Homo sapiens: one gene and its partner. The protein of the gene in region 2 purifies or fractionates together with the protein of the main gene of each other region. This does not show direct contact. Each region holds a gene or a part of one and is shown on either strand. Other genes may lie near its edges. The genes, in order: METAP1D and LRRC56.

Evidence for each region.
Region 1: the proteins of LRRC56 (region 2) and METAP1D purify together in Homo sapiens (affinity purification with mass spectrometry; 2 studies listed by BioGRID and IntAct, with this or other methods). This does not show direct contact.

Annotation. Positions count from the first base shown.
Region 1 is NC_000002.12:171,994,930-172,004,734, reverse strand, and holds the start of METAP1D (methionine aminopeptidase 1D, mitochondrial isoform 1 precursor), read right to left. Parts: upstream 4,783-9,805; 5' UTR 4,766-4,782; coding exon 4,726-4,765; exon of another isoform or gene 4,676-4,725; intron 1-4,675. UniProt on the Homo sapiens protein: Removes the N-terminal methionine from nascent proteins. The N-terminal methionine is often cleaved when the second residue in the primary sequence is small and uncharged (Met-Ala-, Cys, Gly, Pro, Ser, Thr, or Val).
Region 2 is NC_000011.10:544,853-554,838, forward strand, and holds part of LRRC56 (leucine-rich repeat-containing protein 56), read left to right. Parts: intron 1-5,049; coding exon 5,050-5,146; intron 5,147-5,219; coding exon 5,220-5,420; intron 5,421-6,278; coding exon 6,279-6,450; intron 6,451-6,798; coding exon 6,799-6,975; intron 6,976-7,050; coding exon 7,051-7,115; intron 7,116-7,237; coding exon 7,238-7,380; intron 7,381-7,716; coding exon 7,717-7,850; intron 7,851-9,110; coding exon 9,111-9,424; 3' UTR 9,425-9,986. UniProt on the Homo sapiens protein: Required for the assembly of dynein arms.

The DNA of each region.
Region 1 (9,805 bases), on a different chromosome or scaffold from region 2:
TGTCAACAGGAATGTAGTCTAAGTAATAGGAAGCTAAACTTAGGAATGTTAGCATTTTCCAAATCACCCATGAATTGCATCCCAAAAGTTTAATTATAAGTTGGTTTGGCGGCTGGGCGTGGTGGCTCATGCTTATAATCCCAGCACTTTGGGAGGCCGAGGCAGGTGCGTCACCAGAGGTCAGGAGTTCGAGACCAGCCTGGCCAACATGGCGAAACCCCCGTCTCTACTAAAAATACAAAAATTAGCCGGGCATGGCGGCGGATGCTTGTAATTCCCACTACTCAAGAGGCTGAGGCAGGAGAATCACTTGAATTTGGGTGGCAGAGGTTGCAGTGGGCCAAGATCACACCACTGCATTCCAGCCTGGGCAACAGAGCAAGACTCCGTCTCGATTTAAAAAAAAAAAGAAAAGTTGGTTTGGCAAAACTGAGCAGACATTTTCCTGCAGAAGCTATACAAGATAGCAAGGATCTCAGGGCAGTTGGCAAAAGTTTAAAGTACTTAACTCATGATGTATAACAGCCCCTCCCCTGCCTGGCTATTACATTTTTGAAAAACCACTAAGGTAACAAAATTCTCAGTGGAGGAGTCTAGGGCCTTACAGTCACAAGTGAACAAAAGTACTTCTAAGTTTTTTTTATATTTGTTAAAAATAAGTAAATGGCCAGGTGCGGTGGTTCATGCCTGTAATCCCAGCACTGTGGGAGGCTGAGGCAGGCGGATCACTTGAAGTCAGAAGTTCAAGAGAGACCAGCCTGGCCAACATGGCAAAACCCCGTGTCTACTTAAAAATACAAAAATTAGCCAGGCGTGGTGGTGGGCACCTGTGGTCCCAGCTACTCGGGAGGCTGAGGCAGGAGAATCACTTCAACCCGGGAGGCAGAGGTTGCAGTGAGCCAAGATCGCACCACTGCACTTCACCCTGTGCTACAGGGCGAGACTCTGTCTCAAAAAAAAAAGAAAGAAAATATGCCCTCTTACTTGCTGTATTAGTCTGTTCTCACACTGCTATGAAGAAATTCCTGAGACTGGGTAATTTATAAAGAAAAGGGGTTTAATTGACTCACAGTTCTGCATGGCTCGGGAGGCCTCAGGAAATGTATAATCATGGCAGAAGGCACCTCTTCACAGGGTGGCAGGAGAGAGAATGAGTGCAAGCAGGAGAAAATGCCAGACGCTTATAAAACTATCAGATCTCCTGAGACTCACTCATTATCACAAGAACAGAATGGGGGAAACTATCCCCATGATCCAATTACCTCTACCTGGTCCTGCCCTTGACACATGGGGATTATTACAATTCAAGCTGAGATTTCCTTGTTCCTCTTCATATTCACTGGGATCTTGCTTCGTGGCCCGAGCTAGACCTGGGATTCCAGTGAAGCGAGGGCTGGGAGTGAGACTGAGATAGGAGAGAGTTCCTGGGGCCCCAGGGTAGGGATTCTGTACTCTGAGGAAGGGATTTCCTGCCAGCACTAATACTTGGGAGTATTTTAGTCCCTTAAAGGCCCTTGTTACCTTCTCTCTTGGTTCCAAGAGGCTGATCTGTCTTTTCCTCTTTCCAATGTCACTACTCATAGTTTCTACCCAACCCTCCTTAGACCATGATGGAAGAGAACAAATCTTAACAGCCTCTCAATTCTGTATACTTTTAATGAGCTTAACTTTGAGCCAGGTACTGTGCTTATAAAGACAGAAAGATACATAAGACAAAGCTTCTGTTCAACAAGAATTAATAATCTAGTAAGGAGCAGAAATGGTGAGAGGAGCTAGGTAACTACTGTATATAGGGTATACTGTGACCAAAGCCACAATGAGTTGAGGCGTCACAAGAGAAACCTCATGCCTTTTTTAAAAGGTTAAAAAAAAGTCTTCCTCTATTTCAAGAAGAAATGATGCTCATAAATGCTGATAATAAATCCTGGTACATGAAGACTTGTAATGGATTGCTTTACATAAATCTAGATGGGTGAAAGGGAGGAAGAGGGTGGAGAGAGGAGTCTTCGTGAATTTACCCTTCATTTTCAATTCTTGGGGGTGGGGAGCAGGAAAACCTCTCTGCAATTTAAAACTAGCTATGGGTAGTCCAAAAAGGGGCCCTTTCTCCATCATTAAAATAGCTTCCTGATGACACATTTTTCTTCTCTCCTCTAATCAGAGGATCCACTTCTTGGTTGTTGCAACACTTTGGGATACAGTGGGATGGATTATAGGAACCAATAACTTGGCCTGACTTCCATATAATATATTTTCTCAAGACTGTCTAAACCACCATTTGTCAAAATAATAAGTGATCAAAAAGAAAGAAAAGATTAATGCTATTTCTGTTATCTGCAAAGAGATGTTATATATACAGTTGGTGCAAAGTAATCACAGTTTTTGTCATTGATTCTAAAACTGCAATTACTTTTGTACCAACCTAATACATATATACACACATATAAAAATACGTTTATACATGCATAGGTGTATATATATATACATACATACACCTATGTATGTTTTCAGGTTGTTTTTTTTTTGGCTCCTCCTCTACATTGACTATCTCCTCAGATCCTTCTCACCATTACCTGAAGCATACAAAAATGAAGTCTAAAAGCCATGATTTCTTGTGAAAAGAGGAAACAGAAAAGTAATTAGTAAAGAAAGTTTGGACTGGAACCCAGATCTTTTTTTTTTTTTTTTCAGCTCACTACAACCTCCGCCTCCTGGGTTCAGGCGATCCCTCCCACCTCCACCTCCCAAGTAGCTGGGATTACCAGCATGTGCCACCACACCTGGCTAATTTTTGTATTTTTAGTAGAGACAGGTTTCACCATGTTGGCCAGGCTGGTCTTGAACTCCTGGCCTCAAGTGATCTGCCCGCCTTGGCCTCCCAAAGTGCTGGGTAATATTACAGGCATTAGCCACCTTGCCAGGCCTGGCACCCAGATCTTGAGAGATGTAAATTGGCTGTCTTTTCACAAGGCTACACTCTCATGCTGATGTCCATTCCTTCATGCAACCAGTCCAAAATGCTCGCTACATCACCTTCCCCATACACATCTCTCCCCTCAAATCTTCCTGTGGCCCCTTTCTCATCTCCACTAACACTGAAATACTGAAGTCTATTCGATTACCAACCTTCTTCCTCTCTAAAAATATCTTCCTCTTCACTTCTTATTTTTTATTATTTTTATTTATTTTTTTTTTCTGAGACGGAGTCTCGCTCTGTCGCCCAGGCTAGAGTGTAGTGGTATGATCTCAGCTCACTGCAACCTCCACCTCCTGGGTTAAAGCAATTTTCCTACCTCAGTCTCCCGAGTAGCTGGGATTACAGGCATGCGCCACCACGCCCAGCTAATTGTGTATATTAGTAGAGACGGGGTTTCACCATGTTGGCCAGGCTGGTCTTGAACTTCTGACCTCAAGTGAGCCACCTGCCTCGGCCTCCCAAAGTGCTGGGTTTACAGGTGTGAGCCACCGTGCCCAGGCTCTCTTCACTTTTTGTACACACTCATCCTGCACTGTCTCTGCTGAACTTTACACACTGACTTCTATGGAGTGACCACGTCATGCAGTACCGAGAAATGAGTCTTAAAAAAAAAAATTAGAGTCATGTTCAAATGAGCAATCTGCCTCTTACCATTTATGCGACCTTAGTAATGTTACTTAACCTCTCTAGCCTTACTTTTCCCTTCTGCAAAGAGAAAATAATTCCTAACTCACTGGGTTTTTGTTTTTGTTTTTGAGACAGGGTCTGGCTCTATTGCCAAGTCTGGAGTTCAGTGGTACGATCACGGCTCACTGCAGCCTCTTGACCTCCCAGGCTCAAGCGATCCTACCACCTCAACCCCCAGAATAGCTGAGACTACAGGCATGTGTCACCACGCCCGACTAATTTTTAAAATTTTTTGTAGAGACGGGGTCTCATTCATTGAGTTTTAAAAGGAAGCAAGCATATGTAAGGCGCTTAACACAGTATCGTGTACTTAAAAGGCACTTAATAAACAGTAGCTGTTACTATGAAAATAATATTTACCTCACAAAACTGTTCCTACATGCCTGACGCTTAAGTAGCTCCTCAAAATATGATAGTTTTCCTCTTCCCCCGTCCTTGGAAAAACTTTCTAGTTCTTTCCAACAAAGATTCAGCACCTAGTTCAAATCCAACAAAGATTTCCCCAATTCTGCTGCAAAGGCATTTGTATATTTACTAAAATCTCAACACTCACGCAGGATAAAACCTACTTAGAACTACCCAGACATCCTTTCTTATCTTCTTAACTTTAAGTCACTGGAAGAAAACCATCACATTTTGCAAGTCCCCAAAAAGCATGCCTGCATAAAAGCTCTAGGGAAGGGAACCGGGTGTCCAGATGCATTTCAGAATTACCATAGGTTTCCTTGCTCGGCATACAGAATAAATGTTGGTTACACTAATGATACAACCGAAGTTGGGGAAAAAAACTTCAGACAATGGCCCGCAAATCTCAAGGAGTAATTGCGAAAAGATGCCACGTGGTGACGTGTTCTAGGCGGGTGATCAGTGAACAAATTTGTATGTGTGATCCTGTGGTGTGTGAATGTGTCATCGTGTGTGCCTGCGTGTGTTCGTAAACACTGAAAGTACAGTCGTGTGCGCCGAGAAGTCTGAGCGCGGGTGCGCATCCCTTTGGACCCGGGTGCGTACCTAGTGAGCAACCGTGCGAACCCTCACGGGGCTCTCCTCCACGCGCTTACCTCTGCGGACGAGCAGGTGGACGCCACTGGGCGCCGCCATGTTGGCGTCGGTCACGTGGCCGCGAGCACTCGCTCGCCGCCCCGCCCGCTGGAGCCGGCCAGTCGCAGCCCTGCCGAAGCCCTGAGGCGTCGAGGCCGCCCGAGGGGAGCGCGCGTGCGCGCGCGGGGCTGACTGCGGGAGCCCTGGCTGGGAAGCGGCTAGGGCACCCGGGCAAGCAGCAGAACCCGCGGCCGGCTGAGTCCTCTCCAGCCGCGAGAGGCGGGCTCCAGCCGCGGCTCGCGCGCTCGCTCTGAGCCCCCGCGCCCAGGTGGGATGGAAGAAGCCTGTCAGGTAAGCGTGGCATCCAATATTTATAGCATCAACATTTTGGTGCATGGAAACGTGAAGTTGGGCGGAAAAAATAAAGCACAATCTAGTGTTCAACATAGCACTTTGTATCGTCTGCCACTCTGTTGCAAATTATTCCCCTGGATTCAGTTGAAAGGTAAAATTTGGTTCAAAGTCACCAGCTCCCCTTTTGCTGTCCCAGAATCTACATTACTCAGCAGAGACTCCAGACAACACAGGATCTGTGTGTCGCTGCAAAATCTATTCTAGGTACCCCAGTGGGTATGTTCAGGAGACTTCTCTTTCTCCAAGGACGCCTTCTGCTTGGCAGTATTAACTGGAGTCTTAATCCTAAATTTGGAGTTTAAGTATAAAAGGATGACGCCTGCCAATTGCATTGCCAAGAGAAGAAGCCTACAGAAGGCCAATTGTGAATCAGATGAGGGAGCTGATGTATGCCTACTGATGACGGTGCCCATTTTTACCAAATTCACTGTCTCTCTTACCTGTGTTCTGGGGTAGATGCCATCCTGTCATGGACCAGGTGTTATTCATCTTAGTAGCCTCCGTGCCCGGCACAGAACCCGATACCCGAGGAATGTCAGGTGAAGCAATTGAACACTGCATGAAACCAGTCAAACTGAGAATGTAACCGTTTCCAGACTTTAAATGCAGTGAAGATTGATTAGGATTCTCAGTGAATGTGTGTGATGTCTTCTAATTAATTTTTAAGCACTACACACTCAGTGAATAATCTAGACAATTCAGAACAATTCAGAAATAAGGAACAAGTGCAAGCCCCTTCCTCGCCCTCTGTACATACCATAGTCCCACTCCCCAGTTAACCACCGTGTGCTCAATTGAGATCTTTGCCTTTTACACACAGGCAAATGTAAGTATTTTAAATAGAATCATATGACTTGCTTTTTCCATTCCAGTCATCATAGGCATCAAATCTTAGAACACTTAGTTCAGACTTATTCTTTTTAATGACTATATAATCTTGATATTTTTACTTTTAAAGAGAGTGAATGTTGGCATTTCATTAGAGGACACATGCTATAATTCTGGAAAACCTGGTTTTGGATGCTTTTGGGTCACCTTGAAAGATAAAGAGAAGTAATGCTTTCCATCAGGGTAAATAAGATGCACAAGAATGAGAATAAAATGTACTCCTACCTTTTGCAAACTCATTTCAATTCCAGGGAGAGCATTTTTGAATGTGGCAAATCTGTCCTCTGTGTAACTGAGGCCAGCAATCTGAGTGCAGCAAAGGAGCCTGAGAGTTAGCTGGCCACAGAGTCTTAAGCAGTGTACAGAAAAAAGAAATCTAGACATCCCTATTCCTTAAGGCATCAAGCCTAGTTTCAAACCCATCTGAAATAGAACACATGTTCATGTGACTTAACTCAGCCAACCCTTGGAAAATAAATGAATGCTTTATTCCCCTACAACTAAAAGGAAAAGGAAACACTATGAGGACCCAGGTGGCACCAGCAGTAGTGGAATCCAGTGAGGAAATCCTCAATAAGTTCGGCATGGAATGTAGATATCTGGGATGAGCTAGAAATGAAGCAAATATGAACTTGCACAGGTGATAGCTCATCCACTGACCCTGGATCTGGCTTCTCTCATACACATCCTTCTCACCGCAGAAGGGTTAAAAGCTGCCAGCACATGTCCGCCAAAACCATCAACTTATGGGATATAAGCTGGGTGTGGTGGCTCATGCCTGTAATCCCAGCACTTTGGGAGGCGAACGCAGGCAGATCACTTGAGGTCAGGAATTCGAGACCAGCTTGGGCAACATGGTGAAACCTGTCTCTACTAAAAATACAAAAATTAGCCAGGCATGGTGGTGCATGCCTGCAATCCCAGCTACTCAGAGGCTAAGGCGGGAGAATCACTTGAACCTGGGAGGCAGAGTTTACAGTGAGCCGAGATCCTGCCACTGCACTCCAGCCTGTGCCACAGAGGAAGATTCTCTCAAAAAAAAAAAAAAAAGGGATATATACATAGTGACCAACAAGATAAAGGGCTAGATCACTGATATCTAGGATCCCTTGCAATTTTAACATTCTGTGATCTTGAGCATTAGAGTGCTTTTATTTAGATGAGTAACCGCTACTGAGTCACTTCTCTACTCCATTTCTGTCCGTGCTCCTATCTGTGAAATGAAGGTTAATTATATTATGGCACTTCACTGATTTGAATTCTTACCATTAGTCAGATTTTGTACTTAGGATTCTTGAATAAAAAATTGAATAATTCGGCCGGGTGCAGTGGCTCACACCTGTAATTCCAACACTTTGGGAAGCCAAGGCAGGAGGATTGCTTGAGCCCAGGAGTTGGAGACCCAGCTGGGCAACATAGTGAGACCCCGTGTCTACAAAAAATTTACAAACTAGCTAGATGTGGTGGCACATGCATATAGTCCCAGCTACTTGGGAGGCTGAGGCAGGAGGAGCGCTTGAGCCCCGGAGTTTGAGGCTGCAGTGAGCTGTGATTGTGCCACTGCACTGTAGCCTGGGCAACAGAGCAAGACTCTGTCTCAAAAAAAAAAAGTTGAATAACTTTTGAAAACCAGGGTTCAAGAAATAAAGGATAACTTAATACCTTCAGTTTATGTCCAAAAATTCATTCTTGAATGTTAAAATATTTTGATTGTGATTATTATTTTATAGGTCTTTACCTTGATTTTCAAAAGATCATGTCTTATTCACATCTTTTAAAATCTTTTTATTTATAAAAGATATAAATCAAATAAATTCCAATATGCATATTTTTGAAAAACCCATTTTTCCTTCCTCCTTCTTGAACTTAATATTATAGACTTATACCATGAGTGTGTCTAAATTTGTAGTTTGTAATAAAAGTTAAATTATGCAGGTTCTGTAATGTATGTATTGAATTTTTAATTGAATATTTGCATTTTTAAATGCTCTAAGGGATTATGTGACATGAAGTAAATAATTTTTTAAAAATGTTTGTCTTATAGTAAATAACATCATCTTGTAATTTGTCTCACAAGTTTAGATTTATATATATATATATTAGGATTACTATAAGATATTTGAAAACACAGGCTGGGTGTGGTGGCTTATGCCTGTAATCCCAGCATTTTGAGAGGCCGAGGCGGGCAGATCACCTGAGGTCAGGAGTTCAAGATCAGCCTGGCCAACATGGCGAAACCCCATCTCTACTAAAAGATGCAAAAATTAGCCGGGTATGGGGCGGGCACTTGTAATCCTAGCTATTCGGGAGACTGAGGCAAGGAGAATAGCTTAAACCCTGGAGGCGGAGGTTGCAGTGGGCCAGGATGGTGTCACTGCAGTCCATCCTGAGCGACAGAGGGAGACTCTGTCAAAAGAAAGAAAGAAAGAGAGAGAGAGGGAGGGAGGGAGGAAGGAAGGAAGGAAGCAAGGAAGGAAGGAAGGAAAGAAGGAAAGAAGGAAAGAAGGAAGGAAGGGAAGGAAAGAAGGAAGGAAAGAAAGAAGGAAGGAAGGAAAGAAAAGAAAGAGCACAAACCATGAAATAGGGGCCAAGGTGCTTACATATCTCTAATAAAAAGCTGTTTTATGTGAATACGTTGTAAGATTAACTGATATAATGTGGCTGCTGGGGGAAACTGGTACCCCGGGACCACACAGCTTCAGCGCAGTTGTCATCTAGACCCAGGGGCCTCATTCTCCCTTCCTGACCCTGCCTCTTTGTTTTGCCATCTGAATCCGTAAAGTTAGCCTTTTGATTTGATTTCACGATCATTTCTTAGCAACTCTGTGGTTGGAGAAGAATCTCCGATCTTGGCCTCTAGTTTCTCTAATTTTAATATGTTGGTATGCTACTTGTTTACATATTTTAAGTCAAATGAACATTCTTTTCAGGAACTAGGAGTTCTGCATAAACATAAGCCGCATGTACAACAAAGATCTGTCTTAGTAGCTGATTGGGCCCCTCTAAAGTTAGCGTCTATGTTTGAATGATTATAGGTTCAGGCAGACAGTTTCTAGGGCACTCTCAACTAACTTGCTGGCAGAATGTCATGTTTCCTATACCAATCATTTGAGACAATCATGAATATGTTACTGAGTAATCTAAAGGTACTGTTAGAGAAAATGTGTAAATATTCCATGTTTTGCGAGGAAAAGTAATGCCATATGTGAGACAGTTGTGGAAAATCAAGTGGATTTATCTTTGCTGTTTGTGCCCTGTTCCTTGATCTTTAGCAGTGCCAAGAGGGAGCCAGGACAAGAGAAGGAGGATGTTAGTTGCATGTGATCCTCCTGCCACTCTCATTTTTTATTAGTCTAATGACATTTTCCCAGTCATATAATTCCTATGCAAATGATACTTTAAGCCCCACCCCTTCCTAATGGGATTGCCCTACCTGAGCCTCTTCCATACTGAAATTCTGAGGATTTCAGGGATCTAGAGCCATTTATAGGCATAATCCAAATGGGCTCAGCAAATAGCATGCTGCAACCTCCTGAGCAGTCTGTCAAGGGAAGGGGAGTAGAATGGGACCAGACAGGGCTAACTTAACTGTAGGGTAAGACCAAAACATTGCCCCAAGGAAGTTGTTGATATCAGGCCCAGTCTGGCTAGCATTCGTTTCAAGTTTGTCCAACGCTTTGGCTTAAAAGATGTTATAGGAGATGTAAAAACAGCAGTAACACTCCAACATAGTAACATATCCATTGTTGGAGCAGTAGCCCATCTAGAATCGTGGCAGGAGCTGAGGGAGCGAGGGAA
Region 2 (9,986 bases):
GGGGAGAACTTGGTGGGAGTGGGGGGACTTGGGCTGGGACCAGGGACCCAGGGGTCTAGAGAGCTCCATCCTGCTGGCTGCCTGACCCCACGTGACCCTGTGGAGGGTGGATGGGCAGGTGGGGGGAGCCTGGGACATTCAGGCAGGTGTGAGGGGGTCTCTGAGAGGGTCTTTGTTGAAAGGACGAGGTCCTGGGCCAGCCTGACTCCCGGGGGTCCTGCCTATGCCCTGTGGTCTCTGGCTCAGCCCAGATGTACCCCCACTTGCCGTGTGACCCCTACACATGGAGCTCTTGTGTCTGCAATGGGTGGGAGCCCCTGCTGCAGGTAGCACCTCACTCAGAGCTGGGGCCAGGGCCAAGGCAGTCATGCCAGGTCGTGTGGCCAGCAAACTCCACAAAGGTGCCCCTGACCTGGGCCCAGAGCTCCCACCTTGAGGTGTCCCTGGTGAACACCCCAAAGCCAACCAAGGACTGGGGGCCTTCTGGCCCCCGCACGGCTCATTGCAGCCCAGGACTTTGGCTGCACCATGAGGCCACGAGCTTGGGGTTTGGGCAAGAACGGCAACCACCAGCCAGAACCTGCACGTAGAACCCAGACCAGACGGCAGCCCCTGGGAGAGGCACAGCCAGAGCCTGTGTAAAGAACCCAGACCAGACGGCAGCCCCCGGGAGAGGCACAGCAGAGCCTGTGTACAGAACCCGGACCAGACGGCAGCTCCCGGGAGAGGCACAGCAGAGCCTGTGTACAGAACCCGGACCAGCTCCCAGGAGAAGCACAGGAAGCTCCGTGCCCCACAGCAACTCACAACATTCGGAGCTGAAGACGTTGGCGGCTCTCACGTCATCGGAAGGGAAAGAACAAGGCTGAAGGAACATCCGACTTTATTCTGGGGGTTTGGGCAAAGTGGGTTTTGTGAAAACGCTGCTGGTTTTATGTAGCCTGTTCCCAGCAGCATAAGGCAGGGGAATTCCAGGCAGAATTCTAGAACATTCTCCAGCTGTGTGAATTGGGCTCCAAGGGCCACATCTAGTTATTTCCAGATGAGGATAAGGGTATTCATTAAGCAACCTCTCTTTGAATGTTTTCTTGATTTTCCTTATTTGTACTTCTGTTTATCAAACAAATATCAAAATGGGCCGGGCACGGTGTCTCACGCCTATAATCCCAGAACTTTGGGAGGCCGAGGTGGGCAGATCACCTGAGGTCAGGAGTTCGAGACCAGCCTGACCAACATGGAGAAATCCCATCTCTACTAAAAATACAAAATTAGCCGTGCATGGTGGCACATGCCTGTAACCCCAGCTGCTCAGGAGGCTGAGGCAGGAGAGTCGCTGCAGTGAGCCGGGAGGCAGATGCTGCAGTGAGCTGAGATCACACCACTACACTCCAGCCGGGGCAACAGAGCGAAACTCTGCCTCAAAAAAATAAAGTAGGCCAGGCACAGTGGTTCACGCCTGTAATCCCAGTACTTTGGGAGGCCAAGGTAGGCAGATCACGAGGTCAGGAGATTGAGACCATACTGACTAACATGGTGAAACCCCGTCTCTACTAAAAATACAAAAAATTAGCCGGGCGTGGTGGTGGGCGCCTGTAGTCCCAGCTACTCGGGAGGCTGAGGCAGGAAAATGGCGTGAACCCAGGAGGCGGAGCTTGCAGTGAGCCAAGATCGCACCACTAAACTCCAGCCTGGGCGACTGAGTGAGACTTCGTCTCAAAAAAAAAAAAATACATGAAGATCTGGAAATGGAAGAAAGTTGGAAAACACTTTGGGGTCAAAGACACAGTGGGCAGCCCACAGAACTGGAACAGAGAGGGGCCTGGACATGAAGTCAGGCCTGCAGCAGGCACCCAGACGACACCGCGAACGAGAAACTAGGATGGGTTTGGAAAATGGACTTCTTAGAAACATGTCTCCCAGCCAGGCGGGTTGGCTCACACCTGTAATCCCAACACTTTGGGAGGCCAAGGCAGGCGGATCACGAGGTCAGGAGTTCAAGATCCGCCTGGCTAACGTGGTGAAAACCCATCTCTACTAAAAATACAAAAAAAAAAAGAAATAGCCAGGCATGGTGTGCGCTTGTAATCCCAGCTACACAGGAGGCAGAGGCAGGAGAATTGCTTGAACCCAGGAGGCGGAGGTTGCAGTAAGCCAAGATTGCTCCATTGCACTCCAGCCTAGGCAACAAGAGCAAAACTCCATCTCAAAAAAAAAAAAATTAGCTGGGCTTGGGCTTGGGCTTGGCGGTGCATGCCTGTAATGCCAGCTGCACAGGAGGCTGAGGCATGAGAATCACTTGGACCTGGGAGGTGGAGGTTGCAGTGAGCTGAGATCGCGCCACTGCACTCCAGCCTGGGTGACAGAGCAAGACTCCGTCTCAAAAAACCGTAAAAAACAAAAACAAAGAACAAAAAAAGTGCCCCTAATACAAGAGTAAATGATATTCTAATGGAGATGGCTGTACTTTTTTTTTTAGCTTAACAAATAAGCCTCTATTATTTTGTGTTTTTTTTTGTTTTGAGACAGAGTCTCACTCCGTTGCCCAGGCTGGAGTGCAGTGGCGCAATCTCGGCTCACTGCAATCTCGCCTCCCGGGTTCACGCCATTCCCCTGCCTCAGCCTCCCGAGTAGCTGGGACTACAGGCGCCTGCCACCACGCCCGGCTAATTTTTTGTATTTTTAGTAGAGACGAGGTTTCACCACGTTGGCCAGGATGGTCTCGATCTCCTGACCTCATGATCTGCCCGCCTCGGCCTCCCAAAATGCTGGGATTACAGGCGTGAGCCACCACGCCCGGCCAGAAGCCTCTATTGTTAAGACCAACAAATTAGCTCTAAGAACAACAAAAAAATATAAAAAGCACATAAATACACAAAATATAAAAGAGCAGTGGAAGGTACTATAAAATTAAATATGATGCACTACCTGTAACAAAACAAAATAGTTCCAAAGGAAAAATGACTAGGTCATAAATTGTATAAAAAATATATTCAGGCCAGGTGCGGTGGCTCACACCTGTAATCCCAGCACTTTGGGAGGCCAAGGCGAGTGGAACATGAGGTCAGCAGTTCAAGACCAGCCTGGCCAAGATGGTGAAACCCCGTATCTACTAAAAATACAAAAATTAGCCGGGTGTGGTGGCGGGCACCTGTAATCACAGCTACTCGGGAGGCTGAGGCAGGAGAATTGCTTGAACCTGGGAGGCAGAGGTTGCAGTGAGCCAAGATCGTGCCACTGCACTCCAGCCTGAGTGACAGAGACTCCATCTCAAAAAAAAAATTAAAAATTAAAAAATTTCAAAGGAACTTGTCATAAATAAAAGACTGAAAGGAAAAACAAACTGAATTATTGGCACTGAAACATATCCTAATAAAGTTACTGGCATGAAGATAAAGGTAAAAAGTTGGAGCAGCCAAGAAAAGAGATTGACTTGTCTTTTTTTCTTTGAGACAGGGTCTCACTCTGTCGCCCAGGCTGGAGTGCAGTGGTGCGACCATGGCTTACAATAGCCTCGACCTCCTGGGCTCAGGTGCTCCTCCCACCTCAGCCTCCTGAAGTGCCAGGATTACAGGCATGAAGCACTGTGCTCAGCCTCAAGTTTTGTTTGTTTGTTTGTTTGTTTGGAGACGGAGGCTCGCTCTGTCGTCCAGGCTGGAGTGCAGTGGCGCAATCTCAGCTCACTGCAACCTCCACCTCCCCGGTTCAAGCGATTCTCCTGCCTCAGCCTCCCAAAGTGCTGGGACTACAGGCACCCGCCACCACGCCTGGCTAATTTTTTTGTATTTTTAGTAGAGATGGGGTTTCACCGTGTTAACCAGGACGGTCTAGATCTCCTGACCTCGTGATCTGCCTGCCTCGGCCTCCCAAAGTGCTGGGATGACAGGCGTGAACCACCGCGCCCGGCCTCAAGTGGTTTTTTAAGGACAGAAATAACGAAGTGCTCCTTAGACGTCGCCACAGTGGACACTGGAACGAAAGGCTTTGCAGCCTCCTGGGAAGAGGCGTGAACTGAGAGTCTGACACCCAGCCTAATGGCTGCATAAGCTCACAGCCAGCAAACATCTGTGAGTCAGAGATCAAGGGGTTTCCATTAGCTGCTCTTGAAGAAATCACTAGACACAAATCCCAGCCAATTCAGAGCGGAGTGGAAAAGCCATTGAAGGCAGCAGGCTGAGGACAGACACTGACTCCACAGCGCGAAAGGACGGACCACCGGGAATGCACCTGAGGGCCCACAGAAGGAAGCTGAAAACACAGTGGGCGGAATGAAGCCCAGGTGAGTCACAGCCTACGGGTGCCGTGAACTGGACAGAAAGAAGATTTCCGAAGAAATCACCCAGCCCTGGAGGAATCTGTGGCTCCTCAGGGAAAGCCTGTGAGCTCAGGTGGCCCTTTCACAAGGAGAGGTGCAGAGATGGCGTAGCAGCGCTGAAGGGACGGCCTCCCAGCCGAGAGGGGCAGGTGCAGGGTCCCTGGGGACAGCGCATGGTGAAGTCACTGTGGCTACAGTGGGAACAGGGTGGGCCCGGCAGGAAGCAACCTGTCCCTGCACACATCAAGCCGCCCTGACCCACCGCCACCTCCAGCAGCTGGTCCCCACAAAAGCTGCCAGCTCAGCACGGGGTCAGCCTCCAGCGAAGCCCCCCACATCGGTGTCCAGGGGCTCAGGCTCCCAGGCAGCACTCCAGACCCTTACTCCAAATTCGAGTGCCCCAAACGCTACTGAGGAGACAATTAGAAAGAGAAAGGTGATGCCTGCAGCCTGCCAGGGAGGGGACTGAGCCACCCACTATGAGGGCAGCGCCTTGGGCACAGCTGAGCCACCGGTCACGAGGGCAGCTCCCCAAGCCAGGCCCTCCAGGGCTTGGAGAAGGTGGGGGACACTGTACCCACACCAGAGCCAGAAGGCCAAGGCAGAGAGCCCCTTCCTCAGTCTAGAGGCCACCATAGGTGGTCACACCTGCCCCTACCCCTGAAGACAGCCAAAGGCAGGTGGTGGCTGAGCACAGGGCTGGGCACATGTTGACCACCAAACCCTGCCTTCTGCAGGGACTTGGGCACGTCTCTGGGCCACCTGCAGGTGCTGTGGCTGGCTCGCTGTGGCCTCGCTGACCTGGATGGCATCGCCTCTTTGCCAGCACTTAAGGTGAGTCTGGGCACCCTGGGCTGGGGAGGCCTGGGCTGGGCCGGGCCCTGGCTCAGAGCCCCGCGCTGCCCAGGAACTCTACGCCTCCTACAACAACATCTCGGACCTGAGCCCACTGTGCCTGCTGGAACAATTGGAGGTGCTGGACCTGGAGGGCAACAGCGTGGAGGACCTGGGGCAGGTGCGCTACTTGCAGCTGTGCCCACGCCTGGCCATGCTCACCCTGGAGGGCAACCTGGTGTGCCTACAGCCGGCCCCTGGCCCCACCAACAAGGTGCGTGTCCCGGGCACCCGGCCAGCATGTGCATGGCCAGGAGAGGCTCCCTGTGGCTCCAGCCCCGGGGCCCCTCCTCTGGCCAGGTACTTCTGTGCCCACCCGCACCCTATGGCCTGCTCACCATGAGTTCACCTCCTCTGTCACTGGAAGTCTGACGGCTCCCAGGACACCCTCCTGGACCAGCCCCGCTAGATCCCACAGGGTCACCTGCACACACGCCATGTCCCTTAACCCACATATGCACCTGTGAGGTCCACACATAAGCCACGTGGAAACACAAAGAACCACGTGTACACGGATGTGTGCACACACACACCTGTGTACGCCCTGTCCAGAGCCACCTCCAGCCCCACAGGCCCCACAGACCACCCTATGCAGTATCTCGGGGCTCTGCGTGCCCTGCTCAGAGCTGGCACACCTGTGCGTGCAGGCCCTGGCGTAGCTCACAGACCCTACACAGGGCACATCTGCCCTGAGCTCACAGTGCTAGCCTCATTAGCTGCTGCTTGGTGCTGCCACATGCTGAGGTCAGCGTCTACCAGTGCCCAGTAGCTACTGCTCCGTGGGCCAGAGCCCTGAGCTGAGGGCAGTTCCATGGGCCAGAGGGCATCCCTGGACCCGGCCTTGGGTCTGGAGAGTGGGGTCCTACATCCTGAGCAGGTGAGAGCCCAGTCCCTCAGTCCCTGGGGTGTGAGAGTGACCCAAGCCCACCCCTGCAGGGTAGGCAGCATCCCCACCTCTGGGCCCCTGCCCTGCCCCACGGTGGGTCTGGGAAAGGGAGCCAGGGAAAGAGCTGGCCGGAAGGAAACACTGGACCCAGACCTGCCCTCCCTCCCCCTCCCCCTCCCCCTGCAGGTGCCCAGGGGCTACAACTACAGGGCAGAGGTGAGGAAGCTCATTCCCCAGCTGCAGGTCCTGGACGAAGTGCCGGCCGCACACACAGGCCCACCGGCCCCCCCGCGGCTGAGCCAGGACTGGCTTGCGGTGAAGGAGGCCATCAAGAAGGGCAACGGCCTTCCCCCGCTGGGTACGGCAGCTGCGCCCGGAGGACCCACTGCTGAGCCCCAGCTCCCCCCAGGAAGAGGCCCCCACCCCAGGCTTCTCAGAAACGGATAGCCACATCTCATGCGCTTCTCCAGCCTTGACCCCGGTCCCCAGAGCTGTGCACACCCGGCCCCAGGCCAGGACACTGTCTCTGAGCAGCCCACAGAGGGAGAGGAAGGTCTGAAGATGAGGGCCTCTCTAGAAGGCTGCAGCGTGAGAGGCCAGCCTCAGGCCATGCAGCATGGGGATTGGGGCCCCTGGTCTGTGGACAGAGTCTGGGGGGCGCTCTCAGGCTGGGCCTTGGTGACCTCTGCTTCTGAACCTCGGGCAGACTGTCCCCGTGGAGCCCCCATCCGGAGACTTGACCCCGAGCTGTCCCTGCCTGAGACGCAGTCCCGGGCCTCCAGGCCCTGGCCCTTCTCCCTGCTGGTCCGTGGGGGCCCCCTGCCTGAAGGCCTGCTTTCTGAGGACCTGGCCCCAGAAGATAACACCAGCAGCCTCACCCATGGTAACTGACTTGCCTCAAAGCTGACCCTGCAGCCCCTCGGCCCCGAACCAGGCCCAGCCATGCTGTCTCTTGCAGGTGCTGGCCAAGTCCTCTGTGGGAACCCCACCAAGGGCCTGCGGGAGCGTAGGCACCAGTGCCAGGTACAGCCCACAGGGACCAGCCCCCCACGAGAACCAGTGTCCAGGGTTGCGGCCCTGACAGTGCCCTGCCCTGCCGCCATTCCAGGGCCAGAATCCCTAAAGCAGTCCCTTTTCCTCCCCAGGCCAGGGAGCCCCCCGAGCAGCTGCCCCAACACAGGCCAGGAGATCCGGCCGCCAGCACTTCCACCCCAGAGCCTGACCCTGCAGACAGCTCTGACTTCCTGGCCTTGGCTGGGCTCAGGGCCTGGAGGGAACATGGCGTGCGGTGGGTGTCCCTCCAGCTCTTCCACTGGGTGTGTCCTGTCCCGTGGGGAAATCAGGGCTGGGGCTACCTTGGCTGAGTCATCCCCAGTCCCAAGGCTCGTGGACCATCCCTGCATGTCCTGTCCCGTGGGGGGATCAGGGCTGGGGCTACCTTGGCTGAGTCATCGCTGGTCCCAAGGCTCGTGGACCATCCCTGTGTGTCCTGTCCCGTGGGGGGATCAGGGCTGGGGCTACCTTGGCTGAGTCATCCCCAGTCCCAAGGCTCATGGACCATCCCTATGTGTCCTGTCCCGTGGGGGGATCAGGGCTGGAGCTTCTCCTCCTCTCCCCACCCTAGCCCCCTCCCCTATAGGCACCCGGAGTCCCAACAGGAAGGGGCTGTAGCCCCCTGGGGCCCACGGAGGGTCCCTGAAGAGCAAGTGCACCAGGCAGAGCCCAAGACTCCCTCCAGCCCCCCAAGCCTGGCCTCAGGTACTGAGCCTGCCCGCCTGCCCCCCAGTGCCTGGGAGTGACCAACACCCCACTTCTATAGGGGGGCCCTTACCCCAGATCAGATGTGTCAACCTGGCCCTGCTTCCTCAGCCATGCTCTGAGAGGGACTGTAACAGGGAGGCCCCCTTCTGGGGGTGGGGGGCTCACGACCAAGGGAGGCCCAACCCAAGTCCTCTCCCAAGCCACGGTCCAATCCCTGTGACCTTGTGTGCCACCCGGGCTGGACGAAAGAGAGGCGTTCCACAAAAGGGGGTATGAACAGAGTCCAGAGGAGTCGGGACAGAAAGAAGGAGCCACCCCAGGGCACCAGCAGGCAGAACATGGCCACTGGGCAGCTTTCAGGGACACAGGCATGAGTCCGGGGGCTGGGAGGAAAGGCGGCCAGCAGCCCCACTGGGAGACCAAGGCAGGAGGGTGCTGCCGCTTCACCCTGAAGATGGCACGCGCACTTGGGGACATAGAATTAAGCCATGCAGTGCCCTTTACGAAGGACACTGACTTCAGTGTGATCACAGCTGCAAAGCAGAGAGGACCCTCCCTCAGCGGGCAGGCAGGCCGGGCAGGGGGCAGTGTAAGCAGGGGCGACCCCACGGTGGGCAGCTGACCCTCCTCTGTGCAGGAGCCTGGTTAAGGGGGCTGGGATGGGCAGGGAACAGGGCAGGCCAAGCCTCTGCTCTTCCATATGGTGGTGGGTGTCTGTGGAGGGGGCAGACAGAGGGGTCAACAGCTGGTTACCTAGTGGCCGTGACCTGCAGGGGTGGAGGGAGGGCAGGCAGGGCGGCCAGGAGGAGGGGAGCTGCAGTGGCCTCAGGGCAGGGTCAGGACAAAGGCATGCCAGGGCTCCAGACACCGGTGGAGGCGGGTGCTGGGGGACCCAAGGCTTGGGAACCGGCCCGGGGCGGTCAGCCAGTGAACAGGCTCTCAGGGTCAGGACACAGATGACCGAGGGTCAGAGCCAGGCCTTGTGGTCTCCTTCTCAGGGACAGGACACAGAGGACCCAGGGCCAGAACCAGGCTTCGTGGCCTCCTTGCCTGCCCCAGAGGTGGGCCCGCCCATGCGAGTCAGGGGTCACAGGGCTGGGAACACAGAAAGTGGGGTGCAGGGGTGCTGCTGCCTGTGGACCCCCAAGGACCACTGCCTCGGGGCTGCAGGGCCACGGGTGGGCTGTGGCCTCCCCACCGGGTGACTCCCTTCCCTGACAGCCTTTCTGACGTCCCATCACTCTGCTTGCTTTCTAGAGCCCTCCGGGACCTCGAGCCAGCACCTGGTCCCTTCACCTCCCAAGCACCCAAGGCCACGAGATTCTGGCAGCAGCTCCCCGCGGTGGTCGACAGACCTGCAGTCCAGGGGGCGTCGGCTCCGAGTCCTGGGCAGCTGGGGGCCTGGCCTGGGTGATGGGGTGGCTGCAGTGCCTGTCCTGAGAGCCCTGGAGGTGGCCTCACGCCTGAGCCCTCGAGCCCAGGGATGTCCTGGCCCAAAGCCAGCACCAGATGCAGCAGCTAGACCTCCCAGGGCAGCTGAACTCTCTCACCCCAGCCCCGTCCCCACTTAATATAGCCCCCACTGCCAGGCTTCCCTGTGCTGGGGCCACGACTTGCCCACATATGTGGTCACAGAGCACAGAATACCTGGGCGGGTGTGTTGGGGGGTGGAAGGAGTGCCTGGCCCTGGGGAGGACCCTCTTGGTGGAGGGGAGTGGGGGACTGGGACCAGCCAGGGAGGCAGCAGAGGCTGGAACCCAGTTTAGGCCCCCAACTGGGTTTGGCCTGGGGAGGGAGGGTCCGGCTCCCCAGCCCTTCCTTAGGGCCAGGCTTTCCCGCGGGCACGGGGGTGGGGGGTGGTCACCCGAGCAGGCCTGTGAGAGGCCTCTCCTGCTAGAATTGGGCATGGCCGAGGGGCAGGGGCTGGAGCTGCGAGTCCACCACTCCCTTGCCGGCCCCAGGGTAAGAGCCACCTCCTAGGCCGCAGTGGCCCAAGGTCCCAGCTGCTCGCCTGAGGCCGCCGGGGGTGCGGTCCAGGCCTCCCGTCTCCGGGGGATCTGTAGGGTTCCCGCACTGCGATAGGGCGGCCCGTTCCCTCCTCTTGGCGCAGGACGCCCCGGAACCCAAACCAAC